4 linked regions of the Homo sapiens genome follow. The protein of the gene in region 1 interacts with the protein of each later gene in a biochemical or structural test. Each region holds a gene or a part of one and is shown in the gene's direction. Other genes may lie near its edges. The genes, in order: LCP2, ZAP70, PLCG1 and NCK1.

What was found.
Region 2: of the proteins of LCP2 (region 1) and ZAP70, one has a biochemical effect on the other in vitro, tested with the Homo sapiens proteins (2 studies listed by BioGRID).
Region 3: the proteins of LCP2 (region 1) and PLCG1 form a complex in vitro, tested with the Homo sapiens proteins (2 studies listed by BioGRID).
Region 4: the proteins of LCP2 (region 1) and NCK1 form a complex in vitro, tested with the Homo sapiens proteins (2 studies listed by BioGRID and IntAct, with this or other methods).

What each region holds. Positions count from the first base shown.
Region 1 is NC_000005.10:170,245,522-170,253,186, reverse strand, and holds the end of LCP2 (lymphocyte cytosolic protein 2), read left to right. Parts: coding exon 1-68; intron 69-616; exon of another isoform or gene 617-675; coding exon 676-753; exon of another isoform or gene 754-1,539; intron 1,540-2,301; coding exon 2,302-2,457; intron 2,458-4,367; coding exon 4,368-4,490; 3' UTR 4,491-6,954; downstream 6,955-7,665. Other genes in the region: putative uncharacterized protein C5orf58, read right to left, coding at 7,074-7,225. UniProt on the Homo sapiens protein: Adapter protein primarily involved in signaling pathways within T-cells, as well as other immune cells such as platelets, mast cells, and natural killer (NK) cells.
Region 2 is NC_000002.12:97,729,911-97,737,575, forward strand, and holds part of ZAP70 (tyrosine-protein kinase ZAP-70), read left to right. Parts: intron 1-2,972; coding exon 2,973-3,111; intron 3,112-3,214; coding exon 3,215-3,302; intron 3,303-3,386; coding exon 3,387-3,433; exon of another isoform or gene 3,434-3,633; coding exon 3,634-3,685; exon of another isoform or gene 3,686-4,609; coding exon 4,610-4,802; intron 4,803-5,339; coding exon 5,340-5,546; intron 5,547-7,562; coding exon 7,563-7,665. UniProt on the Homo sapiens protein: Tyrosine kinase that plays an essential role in regulation of the adaptive immune response. Regulates motility, adhesion and cytokine expression of mature T-cells, as well as thymocyte development.
Region 3 is NC_000020.11:41,140,407-41,148,071, forward strand, and holds part of PLCG1 (1-phosphatidylinositol 4,5-bisphosphate phosphodiesterase gamma-1), read left to right. Parts: intron 1-7,665. UniProt on the Homo sapiens protein: Mediates the production of the second messenger molecules diacylglycerol (DAG) and inositol 1,4,5-trisphosphate (IP3). Plays an important role in the regulation of intracellular signaling cascades.
Region 4 is NC_000003.12:136,864,963-136,872,627, forward strand, and holds part of NCK1 (SH2/SH3 adapter protein NCK1), read left to right. Parts: intron 1-7,665. UniProt on the Homo sapiens protein: Adapter protein which associates with tyrosine-phosphorylated growth factor receptors, such as KDR and PDGFRB, or their cellular substrates. Maintains low levels of EIF2S1 phosphorylation by promoting its dephosphorylation by PP1.

The sequences.
Region 1 (7,665 bases):
CCGAAGGCAGAAACTTCCCCTTGCCACTTCCAAACAAACCTCGGCCCCCATCCCCCGCGGAGGAAGAGGTAAGAGAGCATGTTTTTATTTTTGTTTGTTTGCCTTTTCCCTGGTAAAAGAATCACCAGAAACTCCCATTGAATGTTCTTCTGTACTTTTATCTTCCCTTTGTTTTATTTTATTTATTTGAAAAAAAAGTTAAAGGAGAAGATCCAGATGAACAATATGTTCTTTTCCCTTGGCGTTCTTTCAGACGCTTTCAATGGCAAACATGTGTTTTGCATTAAACAGCAAGAAAAATAATCCTGTTTTTTATGTTTATGACCTTGATTCGTCACTTAACTGCTCAATAACCCATTTTTTTAATCAAGCAGGTTATTATGCTAAACTGAAGAAATTATTGTATCTGTATCTTTCCTGAAGAGGTTCCATACTGTAAGGAACTCTTATTCACAGGCATTTTTGCAACCAGTGTCATGATAAAAAGCAGTTCGCACAAAATATCTTCTATTTAGCCCCAGCTAAATGACTCTGAATGCAAATTAAGAAAACAAATGTTTCAGACCTCCTGGAATTGAGGTGTTGATTTATGGAAATGATTACTCAGAGGCTTTTCTTTTCACTTACATCTGTAACTGTAAAATTTATTCAGTTTCTAAAAATTTACATTTTCAGAATTCATTAAATGAAGAGTGGTACGTTTCTTATATTACCCGACCAGAGGCAGAAGCTGCTCTTAGAAAGATAAACCAGGTATTGTGCTATAGTTTATTTTAACATAGTTGTAAATATTAATGGCAGAGAAGGGAACTGACCTGTCCTGAGTACCAATTACAGGCTAGGAATTCTGCTAGGTGCTGTTGCTTTCTGTAATACCTAGGAGACCCATTAGTGCCAGCTTCACAACTACCAGCACCCATAGCAGGGATTCCTAGGCTCGGGAATCATTAGGCTGGCAGAAGAATCTCAAGGCAGTCATTTGGTTGGCAGCATCTTAGGAGATTTTATTAATGAAAGAGTCTGTCTTGTCATAGGAATCACATGGTGTCAGAAGGAGACTCTCTTTCAAAGTTCCAACATCGTACCAGTTCTATCTTCCTCTTAACACAGACGTGCCATCCATGTTGATGTGAAAGGACCAATATTAAAGAGATGGCAGCAACTTTTTGCTTTTTGCCCTAGACGTTTCTAGCTAGTCCTTTAATATCATAAAGTCTTAAACATATTTCCCGTAGCCAGTGCCGAAACTTTACCTTAGATTTATTTATCAGAAATGGGAAAGCAAAAATCTTTCATCTTTCACACTTAAACTCCACACCAGTAGTTCTCAGTAGTAGTTGCACATTTAGATCACCCGGAGAACTTTTGAAAAATCCCGATTCCTGGGTCTCACCTTGAGATTCTAATTATTCTGGGGGTGCTGTGTCAGCTCTGGGAGTCTTCAAACTTCCCAGGTAATTCTAATTTGAAGCCAAGACTGTGAATCACTGGTCCAGAAGTATGTTTGTTTAGCAGAGATGTTCTGACAGGCTCAATTAACTTGCAATAAAAGGAACAAAGGAAAGTCATTATTGCCAACTCATGGCTATTTAAAGCTATCCTGATTTGGTATGAGGAGAAGGGAGTAGTTTAAAGGAGTCCTTACCAATTAATTCTATTTTAATATTAGATCTTTACAGTATTAATATTATGTAGCAATAATTTATTGAATGGAAATTTAAAGTACAGGACAATCAAAACAGTAGTTTAGCAAATATCAGAAAAAAGAAAAGAAAAGAGAACATCTGCATTCAATTTTGCTCAAGGGTCTGATGAAGGAAAGACTATCTAGAGATCACAGGGTTTTAAGAAGGGTGAATTTCATGGCATGTGGATGTTTTCTGACTTTGGATGTGGAAAAGAAAGTTTAGGGAATTAACTCACAGGAATACTAGGAAGATATATCTTGAGTTAACCAATAAAGTATTTTATTTCTCCTGGCCTTTTATCCACTCAACCACCCATTATTTATTACTGAACAAAAGATTCCGTTTTTATCAGGAGGCTTTAACGAGATTGACTTGGAAATTTCTTTGATACAATCTCTGTTGCCTTTCTTAATAACAAAATAACTCATGACACATGGGATATGTAGCTGTTTGGAGAACTGAATGTTCGTTGAATGACAGGTTTTGCACTCAAGAAGCTGCAAAGTGCAACTGACATGTTTGTCAGATCCCTAGAGGCTTGTCTACTACTCTTACAAGCAACAAAAATATTGACTTTTACTGCTCCCATAATAACAGGAATTTGTCTTTTTAGGATGGCACATTTCTGGTCAGAGACAGCTCTAAAAAAACAACAACCAATCCATATGTCCTCATGGTGTTGTACAAAGATAAAGTTTACAACATCCAGATCCGTTATCAGAAGGAAAGTCAAGTTTACTTGTTGGGAACTGGACTCCGAGGGAAAGAGGTAAGGATTTCAAATTTCGACATTTTCCCAAAGTCTTTATTTATGCCACTCTGCATGCCTTCATGGAGCGATCTTTGAGAGTCCGTGCTGTATGGCAAATTTAGGATTAAATCACATGAGTGAAGCCCTTCATTTATTGGAAGAGAAATAAAGCAAAATCTTTACAATGGTTACTTCTGCCATAGGATTCTTTCTTGTATATCTTTTCTTTCAAATAATCACATGTATAATTTTCAAAATCAAGAAAAACTATGTTAACTTAAAAAAATCTATTTAGATGGTGTCAAAGGAAAGTTCCCACTATTATTCACCTCTGTGGCATAATTTTAACGTAGGCTGCATTTTAAGTTGACACCACCTGGAAAAGGGGAAAAATTAGAATATTTGCTGGGGTGATTATTCAAATACTTGGCTCATTTCTTAACAAAATGGAGGTTTGGCTCTGTGAGGATGGCCAGATCGCCAAAGAAATTCTCTGTTAGGCCAAGGTTTAGATTCTCATGCCAGTCACTTTTTGAGTGCTAATCAGAACGGATGGAAAGAAACCCTCAGGGCTAGTTTTTCGCAAAGGAAACTAACAACTGAAGGTAACGCCCCAAACATACTCTAAGTTCAAAGTTCCAAGAGGAGGACCAGCTGAATCAAACATGTCCAGAATGAGAAACAGCTTACCCATAACTTCTGCTTCACATACTTCTGTTATGATAATGTTAATGAATAGAAAAAAAATGCATGCTTGTGATCAAATGTTTGAATCGCTGGTTGGCAGTGGATAGAGCTGCACAGACCCTATAGGAGCAGAGGTATTTGCCCTTCAAGATTTATCTTGGTCCAGTGTGGAAACACACAAGTGCAGACCAACCACTCATTGCAGCTCCCATGGAGGGAGGCACCTAGCAGATTAGTCTTAAAGGAAGTGCATTATCCTGTTAGGGTTCCTAGGTGAGTTGTGACCCACATCTAGAAAAATGAGTTAGGCTTTTCCCTCTCTAGCAAGCAATCAAGGCTGGGGCGATCCAGGCTATGGCTGCAAATATTGGTTGCTGAGCCTTTATGAGTGTGAAGGTGGCAGTGAGGACACAGCAGAGAGATCATGAAGGAACTCCTGTGCCATGCTGCAGATCCCACCTCTAGACACCATGAACCGTGTCTGACCTCCTGAGTCCTTATGTTTCCTAACACTATTAATGACTGGGGGTGAAATAGAGATGCAGAAACCAAAACCAAAACCAAAAACAGAGCAACCCGAGGCAAGAATATTGTAATAGTGACTATTTAAATGACCCCTTCATATGAAGTTAAAAATATATGCATTTCAAATTACATATATATATATATAGATATGTAGATATATATATATATATATACACACGCATGCACATATTTTATCTATTTTTTTTTGAGATGGAGTTTCCTTCTTGTTACCCAGGCTGGAGTGCGGCAATGGCGCAATCTCGGCTCACTGCAACCTCTGCCTCCCAGGTTCAAGCAATTCTCCTGCCTCAGCCTCCCAAGCAGCTGGGATTACAGGCGCACACCAGCACGCCCAGCTAATATTTTTCTATTTTCTAGTAGAGACAGGGTTTCACCATGTTGGTCAAGCTGGTCTCAAACTCCTGACCTCAGGTGATCCACCGGCCTTAGCCTCCCAAAGTGCTGGGATTACAGGGGTGAATTACTGCACCCGGCCCATATTTTATCTTTATCTATGGTTTGTTGGATGTTTATGAGGAATTTTTTCAAAGTTCTATAGCAGAAATCATTAAACTAATTGCCACATTTACATTTTTTCCCCCCACAATCCTCATCACTTGAAGAGGCAGCATATATTATGCAGATAAAAAAACTGAAAGTGAAGTTCCTGCTTTTCATTCCAATGTTGACTCATCTCCCTATCTTGACTCTTTCAGGACTTTCTGTCTGTGTCAGATATTATTGACTACTTCAGGAAAATGCCACTTCTGCTCATTGATGGGAAAAACCGAGGTTCCAGATACCAGTGCACATTAACGCATGCTGCAGGGTACCCATAGCAAGTTATAGCCGAGCAAATGAACCGTCCTCCTGCCTCTGTTGCCAACACGAGATCAATCAGCCTTGGTCAATGGACAAACACTTAGGACTGAACTGAACCCCTCCCCATGAACACAAGGGTTTTATCCTTTCCTTTAAAAACAGTGTTTGAAATGAAGACTGTCAACTATCCCATAATTTATTTATTCTTCTTCAATGTTTGTAAAGTGCATGAGTCATGTTCACACTTGAAGTCTAGTAGTGCACTGTAATAATTCATTTTTTAAAAGATTATTTAATGCCCATTTCAAAATACAGTAGTTTACACAGCTACAGAAACAATTTGGGGCAAGTTTTAAAACACTGAAACAGTAATAGTTATTGGTGTCACATAAAACTGATTTGTTTTTTACAGCCAAACCTCTGTCAGTCAGAGGCATTCATTAGTTTTATACATGTAATTTGAAAATCACTAAACCTCGTTTTCTCAGCAGCAATAATTTAAGAGGCTTCAAAAATATAATTTCACTCTTATTTAGTATTTTTTCCTGGGGGCATTTTTACGTAATTTTTTTATGAAAAGACAAATGCATGTTGAGATAACTTCTGGGATTAAAATAGTCTTTTGCTTTACTTTTTTGGTTTCCTAAAACAACTTTATTGACTTTTAGTCCATACTGTTATATTTTTGTCTTAAAGAAAATTTAAACTACAAATACCAAAAGAAAACATTTTAAATTTAGGGATGAGACTTTGGTGTATCGTGGGTCTAGGTTTAATGAACACATCTGGGGTTAAGTTGGCATTTCTTCACATCTCCACACCCACACCAACCATCACAGCCCCCCACCAACCTTCTCCCAACCCCAAAAGCATTGTCCAGGGATATAGATTTTACCAAAGGCTTCCTGGGAAGACGAGGGAGCAACACTTTAGATTAAATGTGATCAGACTTTCCTATTAGATATGGCTCTTCTGTCTCTTGTTATCCCCCTGACAGCTCTGCCATAAAGTCCCTTCTCCTCATCCTTCCCAAACAGGCTGTATAAGTGCTTTGAGGTAATTAAACTCTTTCCTCCAGTTTACAAATATCACTTAACAAAAAATATAGGCATTCAGCCAGATTAAAAAACTGGTATTCAGCCAAATAGTGACAATCAGTTGTTCTTCAAGTTTTTCCCTTTGGGACCTTGGTTGTTATTGCACAACTTTTATTAGCAACAATTTTTGGCGTCTCTGCTTAATCTACAAGTTTTCGAAATGGAAAAGAGTATCTTGCAGCTTCATTTTCATGAGCTAATAAAAGGGGTATTGGAAGGAATCTAAGAAGTCACCATTTTAAAACTGATGATATGTTAAAATAAGGAGTATGCAGAAGGTAGAGACTTTTAACTGATGATAAAAATGGTGTTTCACAAAATCTCATCCTTAACAACCAGAAGTTCTCAGTTTAGGGTCCAAAACTTGGGAGTTTAAGGCTGAAAACCCTGCATTCATTTACACGTCTACACAACGGGCTATTCAGCAAGTATTTACTTAGTGGCTCTTCTGTGTTAAACAAGTGAGCTAGGTACAAGGTAGTAAGGATAGCATACACCATAGGTTCTAGTATCGAGTAAGCTCCACTTGTCTTGCTTTGCCGTATTCTATCTTTACAATTCAAAAATATCTAAAATGAAGGACCTGATAGATTTCAAAGCAACTATTTGGTAGCGAATCATGTTTATAAAACAAACCAAAGCTCATTTTAAGTCTATTAGTGGAAAGTGCCATCAGGATTAAGATGTTCTGTTCCATGGCTATGACTGAAATCAATGTTGGGAAGCTAATGTTTTCATGACTAGCATTCTCTCTCTGTTCAAGCACCGACAACTCCTTTTGGCTGGGCCTTGCCTCTTTTGGCCACAGACCTTCTATATGACCCCAGGTGCATCAGTCACAGTTGCTCAGAACCCTGCTCAGTGATAAACATCTTACTAAAGCTGGGTCAATCAGGGTCACTCTCTGGAATGTTAAACATGAAGCCTGAGACAAGATCTCTCTTTTATCTGGGGTCCCCAAAGGCAATGCTGTACACTTGGAGCTGCCTGCTGCCCTGCAACTACTCCCATTTACCAATTATCTGGAAGAACCAGTCTACAATAGAAGACAACGAGGCCAACACACAAAAACACAGTAAAAGTATGGACAAATTAGTGGGATCCCTGAAATCTATTCCAACTATGTGCTTCCAAGTCACATGACTCAATAAATGCTTCAGCTGGTTGAGTTGTGCTTGGCGTTCACTACCAGGAGAGTTCTGATTAATAAAAACTCATTCCATCAATTAATAATTTAGTAGCTCTCTTTCAACCTGAGCCAAATTCAAGCATAAGCTAAAGGATAAGCAGTGACCCATGGCCAATTTCCTATGTCATACACTTGCCATTAGTGACGTAAGTTAAGCCATTCTTCAAAACATTAAACAGCCTTCAAGAACATGAACTGCTTGTTTACATTATTTTTATTTTGTTTTAAATTATATATATACAAATTAGTAAACTCAACTCTCCCAAATATTTGTTAGTTCAACAATAAAACAGAAACTCATAACAAATAAGAAATCAGATAGAAAAACTGTTAGAAACAAGGGATACATCTGATATTTTAGACTCTTCAAAGAGGGGGTTGTTTCTTTCTGCTTCTGCTAAGTTCTCAGTCTTGATGGGATGATTAAAATGTAGGATAAGGTCACAAAGCAATAACTGGGAGAGCTCTGTGCAAAACAAAACAGGAGATATTATATTGTAGCACATATGTCATAAAAAACTATTATTGCTTTAAGTAGCTATTTCTTCCTAATTCCTAATTTCCAAGTGATTAGTGATCAAACCACAACTTAAGTGTGTCCCATTCTGACTTAAAATAAGATTTATGCTCTCGAGGAGCCAAGATGGCTGAATAGGAACAGCTCCGGTCTACAGCTCCCAGCGTGAGCGACGCAGAAGACAGGTGATTTCTGCATTTCCATCTGAGGTACCGGGTTCATCTCACTAGGGAGTGCCAGACAGTGGGCGCAGGTCAGTGGGTGCGCGCACGGTGTGCGAGCCGAAGCAGGGCGAGGCATTGCCTCACTTGGGAAGTGCAAGGGGTCAGGGAGTTCCCTTTCCGAGTCAAAGAAAGGGGTGACGGACGCACCTGGAAAATCGGGTCACT
Region 2 (7,665 bases), on another chromosome or scaffold:
TGAAATGTAGTGGCTTAAAACAATGGTCATTTACAGCCAAGTGTGATGGCTCACACCTGTAATCCCAGCACTTTGGGAAGCTGAGGCAGGCGGATCGTCTAATGTCGGGAGTTTGAGACCAGCCTGGCCAACATGGTGAAACCCTGTCTCTACTAAAAATACAAAAATTAGCTGGGCATGATGGTGGGTGCCTGTAATCCCAGCTACTTGGGAGGCTGAGGCAAGAGAATCACTTGAACCCAGGAGGTGGAGGTTGCAGTGAGCCAAGGTTGCACCATTGTACTCCAGCCTGGGCAACAAGAGCAAAACTCTGTCCCAAACAAACAAACAAACACCGATCATTTATTCACTCTTGTTTTGCTTGGCAATTTGGCTGGTTGCTTGGTAATTTGGGCTGAGTTCAGCTGGGTGCCTCTTCTGCTGGGTTTTTGAGCTTACTCATGTGGCCACAGCCAGCTGGAAGATTGGCTGGAGCTGGATGGTCTCTGGGATGGCCTCACTCACATGAATGGCTATTGGCCACTCATGTAGGGTGCCTTGGTTCTCCTCCATGGGCCTTCTCTAGCAGGCTAGCTTGGACTCATTCCCATGGTATTTGGAGAGCTGCCAGGAAAAGCAAGAGAGGGCAGGCCAACCTCAATGTTCAACCATTTTTCAAGCCTCTGCTTGTGTCATGTTTGCTAATGTCCTGTTAGCAAGGCACATGGTCAAGCCCTGATTCAGAAGACAGAGGAGGAGGCCCCACCTATTGATGGGAAGAGCTCCCTAATATTGTGGCTGTTTTCCCCCAGTATTCCACATGGAAGTTTAAATAAACAAATAAGGAGGAAATTATTAGTTCTAGAAGAAAGAATGAAAGAGACAGACAGACTTGGTGGCTCACGCCTGTAATCCCAGCACTTTGGGAGGCCGAGGCAGGTGGATCACGAGGTCAGAAGATTGAGACCATCCTATCTAACACAGTGAAACCCCATCTCTACTAAAAATACAAAAAATTAGCTGGGCGTGGTGGTGTGCACCTGCAGTCCCAGCTACTTGGGAGGCTGAGGCAGGAGAATGGCATGGACCCAGGAGGCAGAGCTTGCAGTGAGCCGAGATCACGCCACTGCACTCCAGCCCGGGCTGTGGAGCGAGACTCGGTCTCAAAAAAAAAAAAAAAAAAAAAGAGACAGAGGAGGGGAGATGGGAGGTTTGCTGTTTGCTGGTGAGTGGCTTGGCATGGAGTCTCTGTTGTCAGTTTAAAACTTCAGGTTGTGACCCTTAGGAGGTGTTTTCACTTCTCACAGTCCCTGGAGACCATCACCTCCAGGCCAGCCTGCCACCTGCCTCTGACTTCCACAGCTCTGAGACCCCCAGGGCCAATAGCCCTCCCTCCTCACTGGAAAGCTGCACTTAACAGGAGCTTGTGCCAGTGACTCAAAATAGAAATGTTTTGTGGGAGATGTTGACTGGTGTCACTGCGGGGTTTCACGTGACGGCGCTGCATCTGCTGTCCCAGCCTACTGTCTCTGTGGGATGTTTGTTTCCTAATTTGTGGTGGGTTCTCTTCCTTGCCCTTTTGTGTGCCCTCATTGCCCCCGCCCTGATTTCCCATCTCTCCATGTTATCTCCAGACTGTTGTGGGCTAGCCTGGGAACTGCCCCACCCTTCACTGCACTGTACTTCGGGGAACGTGCTGTCCAGGAATGGAGAGGATGGTCACAGCTGCACCTCTCTCCCTCACTCAGGGGACATTTCCTAAGGAAGGGCCTTATTGCAAGGTGGGCCCATGGCTGCCTTGCTCACTGCCATATCCCTGCGCTGAGAACAGTGCCTGGCCTGTCAGTAAAGACTTGTCCAGTGAATGAACATCCACAGGCAGGGCCAGGCCTGGTCTGAGAATTTGCACCTTGGAGGGTGCAGCTCGCAGGCCATCACAAGGGCTCTTCTGTAGTGCAGTGCAATCCCTGAGATCAGGAGTCGGCTGCTTCCGGCCTCCACAGCTTCCACGGGGCCAGCTGCCCTCCCTCCTCACTGTAAAGCTACACTTGACCCTGCAATAGAGGCTTGTGCCAGTGACCCCAGACAAAACTGTTGTGTGGGGGATGCTGACTGGTGTCACTGTGGGGCTTCATGCGAGGGTGCCGGTGTCTGACACTAAGTTGGTCTGTGTTGAGGGGGGATGTGTGTACTCAGGGCTGGAGCGGATGGGGGGACAGTTTCTTACCCCACAAATGCACCACCTTTGAGGGGCTCAATTCCCATCATAGACATGGAAGATTTATATATTTATATTGACAAAATTCCAGCAGAAGGCAATCGAGGGTCTCATTCTAGGAAAGGTCCATCTATTATGGAACTGGTCAGTCTCGTGATGAGAAAGTGACTTGTTTTGATTTGCACAGGGGTGCCCTGTAAGCTTGTCATGGAGCTGCGCCTACCTGTGTGGGTCTGTGTGGAAAAGGCTTTCTCTCCCCAGGAGAATGGTGCTAGGTCTACCTGTTGAAGGCTCTGGGTCTGTTGTAGAAGGCCAAGTGCCCCCCATGGTTGGCTGACTGTATGGCCGAGTGTACCCCCAATGAGTGCCTGTGGATGACTATCTCTCTGTGGATGGCAAGTGTCTGGCCGTGGATGGCCAACTGTTCAGCCATGGGGGACCAGGTGTTCCCCAGTGGATGGGTGTCCCCTCCTCCGTGGCTGGGTGTCCACCGTGGGGGGTCAGGTATTCCCCGTGAATGGCCATCTGTTGGCTCTTGGAGAACAGTGCATTTTCCTGGGAACACAGCCATGGCCCCTCCACCGCCCTCTGCCACTTGGCCCATCATCAGCAGATCTGGAGGTGATGGGGGCCTGGCCTGGCTTCCCCAGTCCCTGCAGCTTCTCTGCAAGGCTCTGAGGTGTGGAGCCCATAGGGTGTGTTGCGGGGGAACCGGGGCACAGCAGGAGGCCCCCAGGTGGCTCTAGGGGTTACATCCCCTCCCTTCCCCTGCCAGGCTGAGGCCGCGGAAGGAGCAGGGCACATACGCCCTGTCCCTCATCTATGGGAAGACGGTGTACCACTACCTCATCAGCCAAGACAAGGCGGGCAAGTACTGCATTCCCGAGGGCACCAAGTTTGACACGCTCTGGCAGGTAGGCTGCCCGTGCAACTTGTTCTGGGAGATGCCGTGCTCAGATGGGGTGCCGGGCTCTGGGGAGGAGAGGAGCCTCTCTGCTAGCTGCCTGCTCCCTGCAGCTGGTGGAGTATCTGAAGCTGAAGGCGGACGGGCTCATCTACTGCCTGAAGGAGGCCTGCCCCAACAGCAGTGCCAGCAACGCCTCAGGTGACGGCAGCAGGCGGGCGGGCGGTGGGCGGGGGCGGCAGGAGACCTGGCCCCCAGCCCTCACTGTCCCTTCTGCTCCCCCAGGGGCTGCTGCTCCCACACTCCCAGCCCACCCATCCACGTTGACTCATGTGAGTTGGGGGCACCTGGAGTGTGGCCTTGGGGATGGAGCTGGGGAGTGGCTGTGGGGGAGGCTGGGATGGAGGCTGGGGTGCCTGTGGAGCGGAAGAAGCTCTCTCTCCACTGTCTCTGGGAGTCCTCAGTGGATATAGGTCTCATGAGAGGGGCTGGACGTCCCCAGCTCAGGCCTTGCTGACCCTGTGGCCTTTAGCCTCAGAGACGAATCGACACCCTCAACTCAGATGGATACACCCCTGAGCCAGGTGAGCGGGCAGAGGTGGGGACGCGGGTTGGGGCTCATGCTGAGCCGAGATCAGGGTCGCTGTCAGGGCTGTGGGGTTTCACGGGGGGCGCTGTGGGCCGGGCCAGGCTGTGGCAGTTGGCTTGGTTAACACCTGTGCACACATGTGCCCACACCCATCACACCTGCCTGTGCACATGTACGTCCCAGTGTGTACTGACGTGCAGGGAGCACACTTGGCCTTGCCTGAGGCTCCCCAGACACACGTTTGTTGAGTACCTACTATGTGTCAGTCACGTTCCGAGGTCACTGTGTGTATGAGCCACCGAACCCTCCTGACATGCCTTATGAAGTGGCTATGGTGATTAACCTCACTTTACAGATGAGAGAGGGAGGGGTCTGTCTATGGGGATGTGAGGCAGTGGTAGAGGCGGGATGTGAACCCACGATGGGCCCCAGAGCTCACATTCCTAAAATGGTCTGCTGCGGGTGCTCCTGTTTCTCATGGGTGGGCCCAGACCTGAACATGTGTATGCACAGAGAAGACACATAGTTACATGTGCACCTAGAGGCTCGCTTTTGGAGGCCTCGTAAATGTGGCTGTGTGCTGCATACGCAGACAGGGACGGGCCCGGCCATAGGCGTACACGTACGAATGCACACACATGCACACCCCAGCTGGCACAGTAACGGTGCCACGTGGATACCAATGCACACGCCCCTAGAGTCCACCCTCATGTGGCTTCATGGGGCACCCACAGCTGTGGCCAGGAGTGTATGCCAGTGTGTGCGTGTGGATGTGCAGGAACACGCATGGGCACCCACCTGCTTGTGCATGCTCCAGGGACGGCACCCTTGTCTGGGGCAGGTGCTTGTGGGGGCTGAGGCTGCCTTGCTCCCCACACCCCTGCCCCTGACCTGGGAGTGTACCGCTGTGTGTGCCCAGCACGCATAACGTCCCCAGACAAACCGCGGCCGATGCCCATGGACACGAGCGTGTATGAGAGCCCCTACAGCGACCCAGAGGAGCTCAAGGACAAGAAGCTCTTCCTGAAGCGCGATAACCTCCTCATAGCTGACATTGAACTTGGCTGCGGCAACTTTGGCTCAGTGCGCCAGGGCGTGTACCGCATGCGCAAGTATGGCCGCCCCTGCCGTGGTGGGAGCACCGCCGCCTGGGGCAGAGGGGAGTGGCTTCACCGGGCTGTGGGACGGGAGCCGGGATGTCTGTCTCACAGCAGTTTGCCTGGGAAACAGACTCTGGGGCAGGACGTTGCACGCTGGAGGATTCCCTGAGAGAGCTCGGGACACCTGACGGGGGTGGGATGGGGCCTGGGCAGGGGGAGGCTGTGGAGCTGAAGTTCCCAACCCAGGGGAGCTGCAGTGGGGTCCCCGATCCCTGAGTCCACTGGCCCCTGACAGGCTGCCCCTGGGGAGGGTGTCACTTTGGATTCTTTTTGGCGATGGGCTGTTCCCGGTGAGCGATCCGGCTGTGAGCCGTCCTCAGCAGACGCTCCAGGCTGCAGGGACATTGAGCGCCTTGGTCCCAGCCTGGGTGGCGACTACAGTTGTCTACCACACAACTCAAGGGAGAAGAGAGATGGGTGGGTGGGGGTGTGGGGCCGAGCAGGGCCGGTGCCCCTCGCCCACGTGCCTCCCGTGGCCGGGTCGGGCAGGAAGCAGATCGACGTGGCCATCAAGGTGCTGAAGCAGGGCACGGAGAAGGCAGACACGGAAGAGATGATGCGCGAGGCGCAGATCATGCACCAGCTGGACAACCCCTACATCGTGCGGCTCATTGGCGTCTGCCAGGCCGAGGCCCTCATGCTGGTCATGGAGATGGCTGGGGGCGGGCCGCTGCACAAGTTCCTGGTCGGCAAGAGGTGAGCACCGGGTGGGCCCGGCCATCGGGTGGGTGGGGCCGGGGCCCATCCTGGGCATGGTGGACATGCACCCGCGTGCATGCGTGTGTGGGAAGCCGGGGCACTTCCACACCATCGTGGACACACTCTCAGCCTGCACACCCACACCCATACCCATGCCTGCAAAGCAGAGCTAACCCTCAGTCCACCATTGCACCAGTGCGGTAATAACAGTGTCTACCTCCAGGGCCTTTGCGAGGATCGAATGAGTCGGCACCTATAAAGGGCACTGCTAGGGCCGGGTGCGGTGGCTCATGCCTGTAATTCCAGCACTTTGGGAGGCCAAGGCGGGTGGATCATGAGGTCAAGAGATCCAGACCATCCTGGCCAACATGGTGAAACCCCGTCCTTACTAAAAATACAAAAGATTAGCTGGGCGTGGTGGTGGGCGCCTCCCAGCTACTCAGGAGGCTGAGGCAGGAGAATCGCTTGAACCCACGAGGCGGAGCTTGCAGTGAGCCGAGATTGTGCCACTGCACTCCAGCCTGGGGACAGAGCGAAACTCCATCTCAAAAAAATAAATAAATAAAAATAAATAAAGGGCACTGCTAGTAAGAGCTTTGTACACATCAGCTGCTCCCCAGACTCCCTGGGCCAAATTCATGGCCCCTGGGAAAGTGCCCATTGCCAGTTATCTGGAACCTGCCCTTTGTTTACGTGCTGCGTGGTTTTCTATTTTTAATTTTTTTTTTTTTAAAGAAACAAAAACGAAGATGTGACAGAGATCACTTGTGGCCTGTAAAGGCTAAAATCCTTACTATCCGGCCCTTTACTGAAAAGTTTTGCAGTTTCATTTGTGGTTCCTCATCCCCAAACTCTTACCCTCACAGACACAAGTTCTGCACTCCCCAAGGCACGTTTTTGCTGATCTGTGCCCTCTGGCTGGTGCACACACCTTCCCAGTGTGCCCCTGGCTCCCACATTCAGTCATTTGACAGGTGTTTATTGGACAGTTTCTCAGTGACAGGAACTGTTAGTAGCACTTGGGATTCATTAGCGAATAAACAAGGCAGAGATCCATGCTCTGTATTCTGGTTGGAGAAGAGAGACAGTAAGTAACAATCCTGATGAAATCTAGAGCATGTGGGAAGATAGTGTGGTGGGCACAAGCCTGCCGCAGCTCCAGGGGGTTGGGAGTGTTGGGGTGCGAGGTGCAGTGAGCAGGGAGGTTTGAACAAACTGAGGGAGGCCGCCATGCCCAGACGTGGGGAAGGGCATTCCAGGCAAAGGGCACCGCCTGTGCAGAGGCCCTGAGGTGGTCCCGTGCCTCGTGTGGTGCGGGCAGGGAGGGGATGAGCAGACCGTGCCAGGCCTTGCGGGCTGCCAGGAGGACTTGGAGTTTTACCCTGAGTTGGGTGGGAGCTAGGGGGTGCTGTGAGCAGAGGAGGGGGAGGACCTGACTCAGGGGCAGAGAGGACAAGACAGTGGGAGACAGGAGGGAGCGAGGGCCTGGGCGGAGCTGACTATTCCTGCCTGGGGGTCCAGGTGAGTGATGCTGCGGCTGCTTCCCGGTGGCAGAGGCAGAGATGAGGAGTGCGGTGGATTCTGGAGAGATTCTGACACCAGAACTGCCAGGGTTTGCTGATGGATTGGGTGTGAGAGAAAGAGGAGCTGCTGGAGAGGACAGTGGAGGAGCCATATGTGTGTGCACATGGGGATGGGGACAATCAGGCCACATTATCTTTGAGATGCCTGTGAGACCTCAGCACGTCGAGGGTGCAGGCATAGGTCTAGACTTGGGAGTCGTAGCGTGTGGGTGATCCCTAAAGCCTTGAGACTGGATGAAGGCAGGAGTTTTGCCTGTTTTGTTCACTGCTGTGTCCCCAGCCCCACGCCTGGCACACAGCAGGTGCTCAATAAGCGTTTTTGAACACATGGTCACCTGGCTCATGCCCAGCTGGGTCAGAGAAGCATGCTTTGCCCCTGGGAACTTGGCTAGTCTTCTCCCAGCTGACCCCGCCTTCCCCGCCACCCCAGGGAGGAGATCCCTGTGAGCAATGTGGCCGAGCTGCTGCACCAGGTGTCCATGGGGATGAAGTACCTGGAGGAGAAGAACTTTGTGCACCGTGACCTGGCGGCC
Region 3 (7,665 bases), on another chromosome or scaffold:
GACTCTTGCCCAAGCACCTCAGGTATCTGGCCTTTCCTGCTGACCCTACCAGGGTACCAGCAGTGCCTGAAGCCTGGCCTAAGAGAGAGACACTGTGCTACCTTCAGGGTGTTGGTAGACCTGAGGGAGAGACAGTGTGGTTTAAGGAGCACTCATACTGATATGTAAGACCTTCTTCTGCCCTGACTCTGTGCCCTCTCTTGTCAGCAGTTGTGAAATGGAGCTGACACCTCCTGATTTCTAGGGTGGTCATTTGGCTCAAAAGCGGGGTGGGGAAGTGCTTAGGTGTTGACAAGTTTGGTTGTCCTGGTGGTATGACAGGAACCAGGTTGGTGTTTGGCCTTTTATGTTGCAGATACTGACATAAATGAATAAAATGCAGTTATGTAGAGTTCCAGCTGAGTGCTATTGAGACCTTTCGTCCCATTTTACAGATGAGCAAATGGAAATGGAGAATCGTTTGTGCCCAAGGTGTTGTGTCAGTGTGTGCCAGGGCCTCAGCTGGGGCCAGCTCACTAGTCAGAGGCTGACTAGCAACCCCAAGCCCATGTTCCCTGTGGTCCACGTGGCTCCTCTGTGAGACACCTTTGTGCTCAGACCATGCATTACAGGGCAAAGACCACTTTGGCTTTTGTATCCCAAGACAGCCTCAGCCTCTCTAGGCTCTGGCTCCACACTTTTTCTTCTGGTGTTTTCTGAGTTGAGATGGTTCAGACTCGTGTTTAATGAGGTTGTCCATTTGAGGGTCTTTGTGGGCCCAGTAAACACTGGTGTAGACACTGTGGAGGTACTCTGAATACTGGCTGAGCATGTCCATGGGGACTTCTGAGGCCCCAGGCTTCTGTCTTTGGCTGATCCTTCACTAGATACTTTTCTAGATGCCAGGCCCTCTGAGGTGAAGGAGTATGGGTGCTTGCTTTTAGGGAAATGAAAACAGGCAATGACAATTGTGAGCAGTACCTTTGATGAAGAGGGTGAGGGTGGCGGAAGAAAACAGCTAACTGCCTTGATGAGGCAGGCGGGCTCAGAAGGGAGGTAGTAGTGGAACCAGCTGGCTGGGGCTTGACCCCTGTGGCTGGGGAGCAGACCACACCAGGAGGCCTGCTCCGAGGGCTAGGCCCACAGCACGGGAGAGGGCAAGGCCCAGGCCGGTGTCATCAAGGGTTTTCTTTGTACTGGCTGTTACTCCCAGTGGGAGAGGGGCAGGAGCACATGTCCGGATCTCCAGAGCTAGCCATCCCTGCCTGTGTATTTCCTGTCTGATGTAGTTTTTTCCAAGGGAAGTCAGACCTTTTAGTGTTTCCTCAGCACCCCAGGCTTGCCCCGATGTGTGGGTTTCCAGGCCCCCCCGCCCAGCTGGGATCCTCTGTTTCCTGTGAACCTAGGAAAAGGGCCTGCTTCACAGATAACTGGAGGAGCTGAGCACACCCAGTCCTGGGACCCACAACACCTCCAGCTTCTCTCCAGACTCTTGTGTGTGTGTGTACACAGATGCACAGGATTCAGTTGGAGTTTAGAGATCTTGGCTACCAGCTTTGCTCTGGGTAGCTTCTTGGAATGAGGCACATTTATTAATATTTGCAATAAGTATTATTATACCTCCCCATTTGCCCAGTGCTAGGCACCAAGGATTCAAAAGTTTATTGAGACATGGTTTGTGCCATTGATGAACTCTTGGAAAAGACAGATGTAGAGGCATATGATTATAACCCTGTGTGTTACATACCATAATATAAAGGCCTCTACCAAGAACTGTGAGGAGCTCTGCCAGGAAGGCATTAAAGGAGAGGTGACCTTTGAGGTAGGCCTTGAATTACTGAGGCACCTGTCTGTGCCGAGGCTAAGGAACTGGGAATCACTCTGTGCAGGGGTAGGGAACAGATATGGTGTGGTAGAGAGGAAGCTGGGACTGGTTGGAGACAGCTATAGCCCTAGTGTGCCATGTCCAGCAGATTACACTCAGTCCTGGAGGCGACGGGAGTCAGCGGAGGCTGTTGTGGGACTGACTTGCCTCTGCCTGGGAGACCACAGTGGCAGTGGTTTGTCAGGCAGGTGTTGGGGAGGGAGGCCAGTGAGCTCCTACGGTTTGCACAGTTTGCAGGAGAGAGCTGCTGAGGGCCCAGACAAGACCTTCTTGCTGAGGCAGGGTGGGGATGCCATGGTGGTAGATGGGAGAAGGGCTGGGTCTTGAGGGGTGAGACAGAGCTTAGTAGTTAAGCATTTGGGCCCTAGACTCTGCTTGAATTAAAATCCTGTTGTGCAGCTTACTTGCTCTGTGACCTTAAAGCATATGACTACCTCTCTGGGCTGCTTATCTGTAAAAAGGATAGTATTAAATGGCATTTATTTTATAAGGTTTTTGTGAGGATTTGATGAGAACCTGTATAAAGTGCTTAGCACCTGTATAAAGTGCTTAGCATGGAGTGTGGCACAGTGTAAGTGCTTACTACGTAGGATCCCTGACAGGACAGAGATGAGGATTAAGTTCTCAGGAGGACCTGGTGGGGAGGAGTTCGAATGCACCTGCTGTCCTAAGGGGCTGGTGCCTGGCCACCAAGCCCTTTGATTCAGAGGCAAGGAGGCCCGCCCATCCTCTCTTGCAGCTCTCAGCAGTCCCTCTATTGTCAGGGCTCTTTCCCACTGCTGGTTTTGCAGGGAGACAGGGCAGTTGGCTGGAAGCAGCTGCTTTGGGTGGTAACCCCTTCTGTAGAGTGAAGGTATGATATTGTCCTATTTCTAAGTGCCTAGCCCAGGACGCTATCTGGAGAGATCTTGTCTTTGAGGAAGTGCTCTAATGCCACAGCCTCGATGTGGTAGGGCCTGCCTCTGCTGTCACTGTTCTGTGTCAGTCTCCGTTAACTCACAGCATCTCTTCTTACTCTGTGCCTTTTCCTGTGGGATGTGGCTTCAAGGAGACCACAGATGATAAGTTGGAGGAAGGGAGTGAGGCCTGAGATTGCAAAGGTGTGATATTAGGAGACTGATTTTTCCCCCTTTCCACTTGCTTTGTTAGAACTAGAGAAGTCACTGCAGACTGTGAGGAGAGTCCTAGGAGAGATGGGTGTGGGATAGGAGGATGGGAATGTTCTGGTGCCCCTTGTAGAGTGCCTTGTTGAGAGGAGCATGGGAACAGTGCGTCCTTGGAGGGAATCTCTGAGAGCAGCATGTTTACAGGTGGCAAGACTCAAGGTGGAGCCACGGGTGAGGAGTGGCTTCAGGCTACCATTGACCAGATAGTCCCACCTTGCTGGTAATTGAGCTGAAGTGCCTGGAGATTTGTGGCTAGAGCTGGTCAGATTTGGGTTCAGGTCTCAGCTCTTACTGTGACCTTGGGCAGATTACTTTTCCCTGTCTGAAATTGATCTTTAGCTGTAAAAGTAATTTCTCCTCACAGAGCTGTATATTAATAATAAGGGAGATTATATATAAGAGTAAGAGATTTTATGTGAAAACTACCCAGCACAACATTTGTCACTTAGTGGCCACTTAACAGTATTCATTTCCTTTACTCTCACCTTTGTTAACCACAGAGCTCCAATCTTTTCCACCACTAAGCTCGGCCACAAGTGGCTGCTCCAACAACCTGGGCTAGGAGTCTGTTTCCTACTTGCTTTCTGTGTTCCTTCCCTGAGTCTGTACACAGAGGACTGGGGCATCAAAAAACTCTGGAATTGGAATAGCATATTGGGAGTTCATGGAACATTTTCTCACCTGTTGTATTGTTTGAACTTCACAGCAGCTCCATGAATCCATGGAGGGCAGGAGTTACTATCCCTCTCTTACAGAGGAGAAAACCAAGCCCTAAGGGTAAGGTCACATAGCAAGTTCATGGCAGATCCTAGGATTTCAGATTCCTGCTATAGTATTCAGTTTATTCTCCCATTCTGGGGAAAATGATAATAGGATGGACCGTTCTATAGGAACAGAGGGTTATTTTGTTTTGTTTTGTTTTTCTTCCCTCTGGCCACATGTGTTTGACCAGCCTAGACTTCCATCTGTGGACAAGCTGGACTCATTGCCTCAATTTCAAAACCCGTCCTGCACTCATCCTTGCCACAACACCGGTGTCGAGATGCTTGGCCCACCCAGACCTTTCCCACACTCCTACATGGGGGTGAATGTAGCCGCTGATTGGGGGTGGGACACAGAAGAGCCTCACCCTCTTGACTTTCTGGTTTGTGGTGACACTTCCGCCTAAGCTTCTACAGAACATGGGAACCTGGGGCTCCATGCCCCAAATATCCTGAGAAGGGCTTTTCCAGGATTCTCTATGACAACTCAAGAGCATGCATTCATTCATGTGCTCTTTAATTTGTCATACATTTGTTGTGGGCCTTGCTACTGTGTGTTGGGCACACTGAGCTGGATGTGATTACTCCAGCCTCTGACTTGTTCATGGTGGCAGTAGATCTCTAGCGTGGTTTGTGTTCCATCTCACCATACCTACTCTCCTTAAAAAAAAACAAAAAACTAGCTTTCTTGGGCCTCAGTGGCTCATTGAATAAGTGAGAGACGACTTGTGCTTCCCTGGCTTTAGACTCTGGCATTTGCTAACTGTGCCAAGCACTGTGGAGACCAGTAGTGGACATAAGGTTAGGGTAGATACAGCCAGAAAGGAGATAAATAGGCAGACAGATAAAATTCTTATAGGATTTGGTGAGTTCTATGAAGGAAATAAGGCAAGAGGCTGCTCTGTCAGGGTAGGTGAGGGTGTGCTGTGATAACAAATGATGCCCACATATCAATGGCTGGCAACAAGGAAGGTTAATTTCCCCTGTTTGCTATGTGTGCTAACCTACACCACCGTCCCTGGAGAGTGGCCTCAGTGGTTCTGGGTGAGGCCTCTAGTACAGAACCTGAACACCCTGGGCAAACTAGGCTGGAGAGGGATTTGGAGTATGGAGGTTTAGAAGGAATTAATTTCTATGACTTAGGATGCATGTGGTGAGTGTGGCTTTGCTGTTGTGGTAGAGTAGAGTGCTGCCTGTGTGGGTCAAGAGACTGTCTTGGCTGACATCTTTGAAATAGGTATATTTGTGTGGCCCTTGCCTAATTGTCATCTCTGCCATAGCTGCCCCCGCCTTCCCCACCAACCCATGGCCCTACTTGAGCTGCCTGCTGAGCCTACTCTGTTGTGGCCACAGTATCCTCCTGCTGCCCAGAGTTTGAGTTTCTCGCTACTTCTGCCACTCATCACACTTGCTTCCCAGAGCTTTGCTGGGTGTGCTGAAGTCTCCAGAGAAAGTGGGGAATATGGGTGCCTAGAGACTTCTAGGGGGTGTTTTCAGCCCCTAGAGAGTAGAGAAGTGTGAGAAGGGGTTGGTCCCCGAATATTCTGTAGTTTTGGGGAAGAAGCAATGGGGACAGTGGAGTTGGTTGCCTTAAGAGAGGCTATGGTCCCAAGAGATGGGACTTGGAGAGTCTCTACTTGCATTCCTGGCTAAGCCCTTAATATTCTCGCACCCCTCCTTGCAAGACTAGTTCCTTTTGAGGTGGTTCTTGGCTAGCTTTTGAGAGGCTGCAGTGGCTGTGTGCCCAGGCTTAAGTCCTAGCTTTCTCCCCACTCTTTACCTCCTAGGAACCGGGCCCATCCTGGGGGAGGCAGGGAGGAGCTCCTTTTTATAGTCCACATGTAGGCTTTGTGTATAGGCTCTGCTGCTTCCTTCCGGCCCTGGCCCTTCCTGGTGTTGGCCGGTGGCCCTGGCTTCAGCAAGACTCAGGATGCAGAGTAAACGGGGCAGGGCGTTCTCCTACAGAAGACTGGCATCCCTTTTTACTGAGCCCAGGCCTGGCACAGAGGAGGCTGGAGTTAGGAAGCAAGAAAACGAGGTGACCCAGTCCTTGATCCTGAGAAGCTTGTGATCTGGACCATGCAGAAAACCGCTAATGCCCAGGGCTGGCAGGAGACAGCTGTGCCTAAAGTGCTGTAGGCTGGGCCTGAGGGCCAAGATGGAATCGCTTTTCTCCCTGTAGCAGCCCATCCTACCCCCTGGGGTCCCTCCACCTGCCAGCTGGCACACAGGTGTTGGGTAAAGCATCTGTACAAAGGCTGTGAGGGGCCTGGGCGCAAGGCAGCAAGGCTTGGGTACGGAGGAGAGTGGGTGGTCTTACTGATGTTCTGGGCCCTGACAGTGAACAGCTGGCCAAACTGGTGAGGAGTTGGGCCATGGCGAGTTTGGCCACTTGTTTGTGTGTGTTTAGTTCTTCCTGGGCACAGGTGGGGAGTTCACTTTGGGGTTGGCTTCCTGTTTTCTTGGACACCTGGGGATATGGTTGAGTTAAAATGTTCTGAGGGAAATGATTGTTGAGGGCATGGGCTTGGGTCATAGTGTCCTTGGCTTGGCCTTGCCCATGGTAGGAGTCGGGTATTGACCACACTGGGTTCTGGCTGTGTAGGTGTGGATGTGTGGTGGGAGAATTCCAACCCCACCTTGACTTCAGCCTAAGGCCCAGAGAGTGTGGGCCTGAGTTCACAGGGTGACTAACCCTAGGAAGGAGTGAAGGAGAGCTCCAGTTGGCCATAGGTCCCACAGGTTTCTCAGCTTACTTGGGGGCAGGAGGTGAGCTAAGGAATACAACTCCATTCCCTCAGTTGGGAGGTTGGGCAGCGATGGGGGCAGGGGTGATGGTCCTTCTCTGAGGCACTGAAGACCCACTTTATGGTCACCCTATTCTGCCTGATAGTCCACCACCTGTTTGGAGGCAGCTCCCCTCTTCCTGCCCTAGTCACTTCCTCCACCTTCAACAGTAATTGAGTATAATGTGCCTGTGTTAGCTTGTCCATCCTAACTGGGACTGTGGCCTTTTCTTGGGCGTTCTTAGCATATCTACCAAGGAGGTTGGAAAAGGTAACATATGTCACTTTGTTAAGGATTTTGCTGAGGGCCTTTTGAGGCCAGCAGTGAAACACAGAGCATTCCCTCCAGTGAGAACAGAATGTCTGTTGCCAGACTGATCACAAGAGGATGGCCTGGTTCTGGCCTGAGAACTGGTCTACACCGGAAGCATGAAGCTCCATACAATCATGTGTGCTAGTAAAGTTTGGGCAAGCAGCTGTCCTAAGCAGGTAAAACGATAGGTTATTCAACTTCAACTTCAGAGAAAGAAATCCAAGGTAGCCATCTCTCTCAGTAGGGGAGGTGAGTTCAAAGAATTTAAGCTGGGCTGGGCACGGTGGCTCACGCCTGTAATCCCAGCACTTTGGGAGGCCAAGGTAGGGGGATCACGAGGTCAGGAGTTCAAGACCAGCCTGGCTAAGATGGTGAAATCCCATCTCTACTAAAAATACAAAAATTAACCAGGCGTGGTGTCAGGCGCCTGTAACCCAGCTACTCAGGAAGCTGAGGCAGGATAATTGCTTGAACCCGGGAGGCAGAGGTTGCAGTGAGCCAAGATCGCGCCATTGCACTCCAGCCTGGGTGACAGAGCAAGACTCTGTCTCTTTAAAAAAAAAAAAAAATTTAAGCTGGGCTTTCTGGGCAGGCAGTGAGTGAATGAGATCCCTGGCACCTTGGAGTGAGATCAGAGTCTAGATCACTCACTGGGGCCCTGTTTCCCAGGAAGCAAAAAGGGAACAGGAGAGTGGCTTGGCTTGGGCTGGCATGGCGCAAAGGGAGTGCAGCCAGATGCTGTGGCGGCTGGGTCAAGTAGCTCTAAAACAGGAGA
Region 4 (7,665 bases), on another chromosome or scaffold:
TTGTTTTTTTTTTTGAGACGGAGTCTCACTCTGTTGCCCAGGCTGGAGTGCAGTGGCGGGATCTTGGCTCACTGCAACCTCTGCCTGCCGGGTTCAAGCAATTCTCTGCCTCAGCCTCCCCAGTAGCTGGGATTACAGGCGCCTGCCACCACGCCTGACTAATTTTTGTATTTTTAGTAGAGGCAGGGTTTCACCATCTTGGCCAGGCTGGTCTTGAACTCCTGACCTCGTGATCCACCTGCCTCGGCCTCCCAAAGTGCTGGGATTACAGGCATGAGCCACCACGCCCGGCCTGTATTTTTAGTAGAGACGGAGTTTCACCATGTTGGCAAGGCTGGTCTCGAACTCCTGACCTCAAGCAATCTGCCCACCTCCGCCTCCCAAAGTGCTGAGATTACAGGTGTGCGCCACCGTGGCTGGCCTATATTCATTTTTCAAAAATTTTCTAGAGTTTTACATTTTCATTGCTTTGTACTTTTACTTTGTCTTATTTTACTTTTTCACCATGTGTTTTTCAAAGCTGAAGGTATATTTGATGTGATTATTATAAATCACTTGTCAGGAAGACTTGACTTAATGAATACAGATACAGTTCATTTTTAAAATCATGGTTTAATAATTTTTAGAATTTACCTTTATAATATAGAAAAATACCAAATGTTCTTTATCTGCACTAGAAAATTAAATGATTATTTCATTAATAAGTAAAATTGAAGGGAACTTTTGAAATCACTGAGCAGTTAACAAATTCTCTATAAATACTGTGATGTTAGGAAGACAACAAGGCTAAATATGACATTTAAAGATTTAAGGAAACTTTATGTCTGGCTGATCCTCACCTTAAACTCTAATGAAGATAGAATTTATAGTCTTCCCTTCAAAACTGATTCCATATGCTGACTTTGTTTTGGTGACATTACCATGCTTTCAATTACCCAGACACAAACTTTGGTTTTATCTCTATGCGTGTAACAATATTGGCTGATTTTTGCCAGCCATTTTTATCTTTGAACTACTCACTAGCCTTTAATTGGGTTTTTTGCTTGATTTTTCTCTCTACTTAGTATGTCTTCCTAAATCTTAGAATTATGCTTCAAACACATCCTTCACTTTTCGGAAACCAGTGATAACTCTCTGTTATCTTCAGAGTATAGTTCAGAATTCATAGCCTAATAACAGTCTGCTCAAACCTGTTTTTCTGGGGCCAGCACTATTTCTTTCTTTTTTTTTAATCAGTGCCAGCACTATTTCTTTATAGGAGCTGTCCACTCTAACCAAACCAATCTCTGATTCTTATTTACTCTTTGTATTTTTGTACCTTCGTATCATTCCTTTTTCTTTCTTTCTTTCTTTTTTTTTTTTTGAGACAGAGTCTCGCTCTGTTGCCCAGGCTGGAGTGCAATGGTGCGATCTCGGCTCCCCGTAACCTCTGCCTCCCGGGTTCAAGCGATTCTCCTACCTCAGCCTCCCTAGTAGCTGGGACTACAGGCATGCGCCACCATGCCTGGCTAATTTTGTATTTTTAGTAGAGACGGGGTTTCTCCGTGTTGGTCAGGCCAGTCTTAAACTCCTCACTTCAGGTGATCTACACATCTCAGCCTGCCAAAGTGCTGGGATTACAGGTGTGAGCCACTGTGCCTGGCCTCTTTCTTTCTTCTTTTTTTTTTTCTTTGAGGCGTCTCACTCTGTCACCCAGGCTGGAGTGCAGTGGCACCATCTTGGCTCACTGCAACCTCCGTCTCCTTGGTTCAAGTGATTCTCCTGTGTCAGTCTTCCGAGTAGCTAGGATTACAGGTGCATGCCACCACGCCTGGCTAATTTTGTATTTTTAGTAGAGATGGGGTTTCACCATGTTGGCCAGGCTGGTCTTGAACTCCCGACCTCAGGTGATCCACATGCGTCGGCTTCCCAAAGTGTTGGGATTACAGGCGTGAGCCACTGTGCCCGTCCAGTTTGCCTAGTCTTTAAAATTTTTTTTTTCTCCTAAATTACCAAGTAGCAAATGAAGTAAAATTTGTTGAATTTTCGCTTTTGGTCCTTTGGTGCAGTCTTCCAAATGTTTTTCCTGTTCCCTATGTTGCTTGCTTTTCTTTCTTTCTTTCTTTCTTTCTTTCTTTCTTTCTTTCTTTCTTTCTTTCTTTCTTTCTTTCTTTCTTTGTTTCTTTCTTTCCTTCCTTCCTTCCTTCCTTCCTTCCTTCCTTCCTTCCTTCCTTCCTTCTTTCTTTCTTTTCTTTCTTTTCCCTTCCTTCCTTCCTTCCTTCCGTCCATCCATCCGTCTGTCCGTCCGTCTGTCTCTCTCTCTCTTTCTTTCTTTCTTCTTTCTTTTTTGACAGGATCTCGCTCTGTTGCTCAGGCTGGAGTACAGTGGCCTGATCACAGCTCCTCATTGTAACTTGAACCTCCCAAAGGCCAGGATTACAGGTGTGCATCAATGTCTGGCTAATTTTTTTTTTTTTTTTTTTTTGTAGAGATAGGGTCTCACTGTGTTGTTCAGACTGGTTTTGAATTCCTGGCCTCAAACGATCCTCCCACCTTGGCTTCTCAACGTGCTGGGATTATAGGGGTGAGCCACTGTGCCTGGTCTGTTGCTTTCCTTTAAACCCATACCCCTTATTATTTTAGTATTCCCTTGGTTTTTAATGTTGTGTGGACTTGAATCATAGAATTATAGAGCATTATTGCTGGAATGTTGGAATCCAACCTTGTGTTTTACAGATAAGGAAACTGAAATACAAATAGACTAGATGCACCAAAATTCAAACATTTAGTGATGGGGGCAGAACAAAGACTCAACCCTTGATCTTCTGACGCAAGTTCTGTGTGTTTATGAAACCATACTACTTCTCATCTCTTGTAATTTTGCCTTATTTGCCTCACATTATTTTGCATTTTGTGTATTTATGCCTTCTCATAGATTGAAAACTTCAGGGCAGGGGAACCTTCATATTTACATTGTAAATTTTTTTTTTTTTGAGACAGAGTTTCGCAGTTTTTGCCCTGGCTGGAGTGCAGCAGCATGATCTCGGCTCACTGCAACCTCCGCCTCTCGGGTTCAAGCAATTCTCTTGCCTCAGCCTCCTGAGGAGCTGGGATCACAGGCACCTGCCACCACACCTGGCTAATTTTGTATTTTTAGTAGAGATGGGTTTCACCATGTTGGCCAGGCTGGTCTCAAACTCCTGACCTCAGGTGATCCGCTCACCTTGGCTTCCCAAAGTTCTGGAATTACAGGCATGAGCCACCATGCCCAGCCTTACATTGTAAATTATTTAAACAATGATATAAAGTCTATATACAGTTTCTTTCCCCTATACTTGTTAGGTGTATTAACACCATTAACAAAAATAATATTGTCATGTTTACCATTGAGTTTTTTTTTTCTTGAGACGGAGTCCTGCTCTGTCACTCAGGATGGAGTGCAGTGGGGCAATCTCGGATCACTGTACCCTCTGCATCCCAGGTTCAAGGGATTCTCCTGCCTCAGCCTCCTAAGTAGCTGGAATTACAGGTGCCTGCCACCATGCCTGGCTAATTTTTGTATTTTTAGCAGAGACAGGGTTTCACCATGTTGGCCAGGCTGATCTCCAACTCCTAACTTCAGTTAATCAGCCTGCTTTGGCCTCCCAAAGTGCTGGGATTACAGGGATGAGCCACCGCACCTGGCCAGTGTTTACCATTGAATTCTATCATCTGCTAAAAAATGAATCTCTTACAGGTTTTACTGCTGCAATTTAGTTTGTCTTTTCGAATCTCTTGATAATGCCAATTAATCTTTGGAGGCCTTGAATGTGGATACAGAACAATGTAATGATTTAGAGGAAACCTGGAGGGCTTATCATATAACTAAATGCAGTGATCTAGCTGTAATGTTCTTTTTCTCTTTTGAGTGTTAGAACTGTAACACCTTCACATTTTGCTACTTTTTGTCCTCTTGTTCATCTGTCAGGAACCATCACTTCTTGTTGAGCAAGACAAGACAAAATATCTTGTTGAGGCCGGGCGCGGTGGCTCACGTCTGTAATCCCAGCACTTTGGGAGGCTGAGGCATGCGGAGCCCCTGAGTCCAGGAGTTTGAGACCAGCCTGGCCGGCATGGTGAAACCCCATCTCTACTAAAGATATAAAAAAATGAGCCCACTGTGGTGGTGCATGCCTGTAGTCCCAGCTACCCGGGAGGCAGAGGCAGGAGAATGGCTTGAACCCCAGAGGCAGAGGTTACAGTGAGCCAAGATCATGCCATTCCACTCCGGCCTGGGTAACAGAGCAAGACTCTGTCTCAAAAAAAAAAAAATTTTATTTGTTCCGCTAGGCCTGATGGCTCACTCCTGTAATCCCAGCGCTTTGGGAGGCTGAGGTGGGCGGATAACTTGATCCCAGGAGTTCGAGACCAGCTTGGCCAACATGGTGAAACCCTGTCTCTACTAAATACAAAAATTAGCTGAGTGTGATGGCGAATGCCTGTAATCTCAGCTACTCAAGAGGTTGAGACAGGAGAATCACTTAAACCCGGGAGGCAGGGGTTGCGGGGTTGTGAGATCCCGCCACTGCACTTTAGCCTGGGTGACAGAGCGAGATTGTCTCAAAAGAAAAAAAAGAAAGAAAGAAAAATCATTTGTTCCATTTGGTGAGTTAGAGTGCTTTTATATGTTTGTTCTTCATGTTTATTTTTCCTCTTAACTCTAAAGTTTCTGTAACAGAAACCATGTATGGTTGCTTTCGTATTTTTCTTATGTGTACGTAACAATAGTTGAATGCTGTAAGACAGCATAGAAGACTATCAGGTAAAATCTCTCTGTGGAGGGAAAGGAATGCTTATTCTCTTGGTCTGTTTTTCATTTATTTTTTGGTTGTTAATAGTTGCTTTTTCTATTTGTTTAAATTATCAGTTAAAAAAACCTGTTAAAACACTGATTCTCTTGTTTCTATTCCTGAAATTGTAAGTAATGATTGCTGAATTGGACATGAATATGGTATGGATAATTTTTGCTTTTGTTCAAACAGCCAGTTGAATAAAACAAGCAGTGAAAATATGTGGAAATATTTAAAAGAATGGATGTTTCTCAAAAGTTTTTTTTTTTTTTTTTTTTTTAAAAGAATCATCCTGGCCCAGCGCAGTGGCTCATGCCTGTAATCCCATTGGGAGGCCGAGGCAGGTGGATCGCTTGAGGTCAGGAGTTCGAGACCAGCCTGGCCAACATGGTGAAACCCTGTCTCTACTAATAATACAAAATTTAGCTGGGCGTGGTGGTGCATGCCTGTAATCCCAGCTACTTGGGAGGCTGCTGCAGGAGAATCATTTGAACCCAGGAGCCAGAGGTTGCAGTGAGCCGAGATCATGCCACTGCACTCCAGCCTGGGTGACAAGGAGAGACTTAATCTCAAAAAAAAAAAAATTCATCCTTTTCTTCCAAAAATTTTAGCACGTATTTTCATATGTTAGTGTGTAGATCAATTCAAATAATAGATACAACAAATACTGTAATATGTTGTGTACCTTGTAATTATTCCAGCTGTATCGCAGAAATATTTTATAAATTTAATAGGGCTGGGCAGTTTTTTTTGGAAATGCTTGATCATTTGCAAGTACTACATGCTCTTGAATAATATATTTTCATTTTTAGAAACATTTAGAATATTTAGTGTACAACCCCTGTCTCCCAGTAATTCTGCTGCCCAAGGAAATCAGTTACTTTATTTTTTCTTTTCATTTCTTAGCTATAGTCTTTAAAAAAAAAAAAAAAAAAAAGGCCTGTGAGGTCTTGCATGATTTGGCTTTTGTCTACGTCTCACTTCATCTCTTGCTTTTGTCTCTTTCCTCTTTCAGCCTTGAATAGCTTAGCCCTTTTTTGCTTTGGTGTCTGTGATCATGCTCTTCCTCAGGGCAGATGGCTCCTTTAGGTTAATCAGCATTAAGTTTGGCTACTAGTATCAGACAGATGCCAAATATTAATTTCTCTCACACCAGAGAAATCCAGGGTTGGCATGGCATTCATTTATTAAATGTTATTTCCAGGTGTGTGTATGTGTTTTGCTATTGTAAATTCTGCAATAAAGATCTTTGTGTATAAGGCTTTACATTTTTTTTCCTTTTGATTAATTCCTGTTGTGGATCCAACTAAAAAGCTTACTAATTTTTTTTTAAAAAATTGTTTAGTCTGGGCATGGTGGCTTATGCTTGTAATCCTGCACTTTGGGAGGCTGAGGTGGGAGGATGCCTTGAGGGTAGGAGTTAGAGATCAGCCTGGGCAATATAGCAAGAGCCGGCCTTTACAAAAGTAAAAAAAAAAAATTAGCCAGGTTTGGCTGTGAGCGTCTGTAGTCCTAGCTACTTGCAAGGCTGGCGGGAGGATTGCTTGAGTCCAAGAGGTCGAGGCTGCAGTGAGCTATGATCGCGCCACTGTACTCTAGCTTGGGGGACAGAGCGAGACGCTGTCTAAAAAAAACAAAATTAAAAATTTGTTTAGAGAAAGTATCTTTAAATGTTTATTGAAAACTGCACAAATTTAAATGTATAGAATGTTTATATTTGTAGATATCTGTGTAGTCATCACTCAAATCCAGATGTGGAACATTTTTAGTGTTCGAAAAGGCTCTCTTGCGCCCCCTCCAATCAGTGTCTCTTTCCCTCTCAAAGGTAATCACTATTCTGTCCTCTATCGCCATAAACTATTTTTGCCTGTTTTTGAACTTTATATAAATGTAACTGATATGGTTTGGCTGTGTCCCCACTCAAATCTCATCTTGAATTGTTACTCCCACAATTCCCACGTGTGGTTGGCAGAACCTGGTGGGAGGTAATTGAACCATGGGGGTGGGCCTTTCTCGTGCTGTTCTTGTGATAGTGAATAGGTCTTGTGGGATCTGATGGTTTTAAAAACGGGAGTTTCCCTGCACAAACTCTCTTCTCTTATCTGCCGCCATGTGAGAAGACATGCCTTTAACCTTGTGCCATGATTGTGAGGCCTCTCCTGCCATGTGGAACTGTAAGCCCATTAAACCTCTTTATTTTGTAAATTGCCCAGTCTCAGGTATGTCTTTATCAGCAGCATGAAAACAGATTAATACAGTAAATTGGTACCAGTAGAGTAGAGTGCTCCTGAAAAGATACCCGAAAATGTGGAAGCAACTTTGGAACTGGGTAACAGGCAGAGGTTGGAACAGTTTGAAGGGATCAGAAGAGGACAGGAAAATGTGGGAAAGTTTGGAACTTTCTAGACTTGTTGAATGACTTTGCCCAAAATGCTGATTGCGATATGGACCATAAAGTCCAGGCTGAGGTGGTTTCAGATGGAGATGGGGAACTTGTTGGGAACTGGAGCAAAGGTGACTCTTGTTATGTTTTAGCAAAGAAACTGGCAACATTTTGCCCCTGCCCTAGAGATCTGTGGAACTTTGAACTTGGGAGAGATGATTTAGGGTGTCTGGTAGAAAAAATTTCTAAGCAGCAAAGCATTCAAGAAGTGACTTGGGTGCTGTTAAAGGCATTCAGTTTTACAAGGGAGGCAGAGCATAAGTTTGGAAAATTTGCAGCTTGACAGCGTGATAGAAAAGAAAATCCCCTTTTCTGAGGAGAAATTCAAGCTGGCTACAGAAATTTGCATAGGTAATGAGGAGCTGAATATGAATCCCCAAGACAATGGGGAAAATGTCTGCAGGGCGTGTCGGA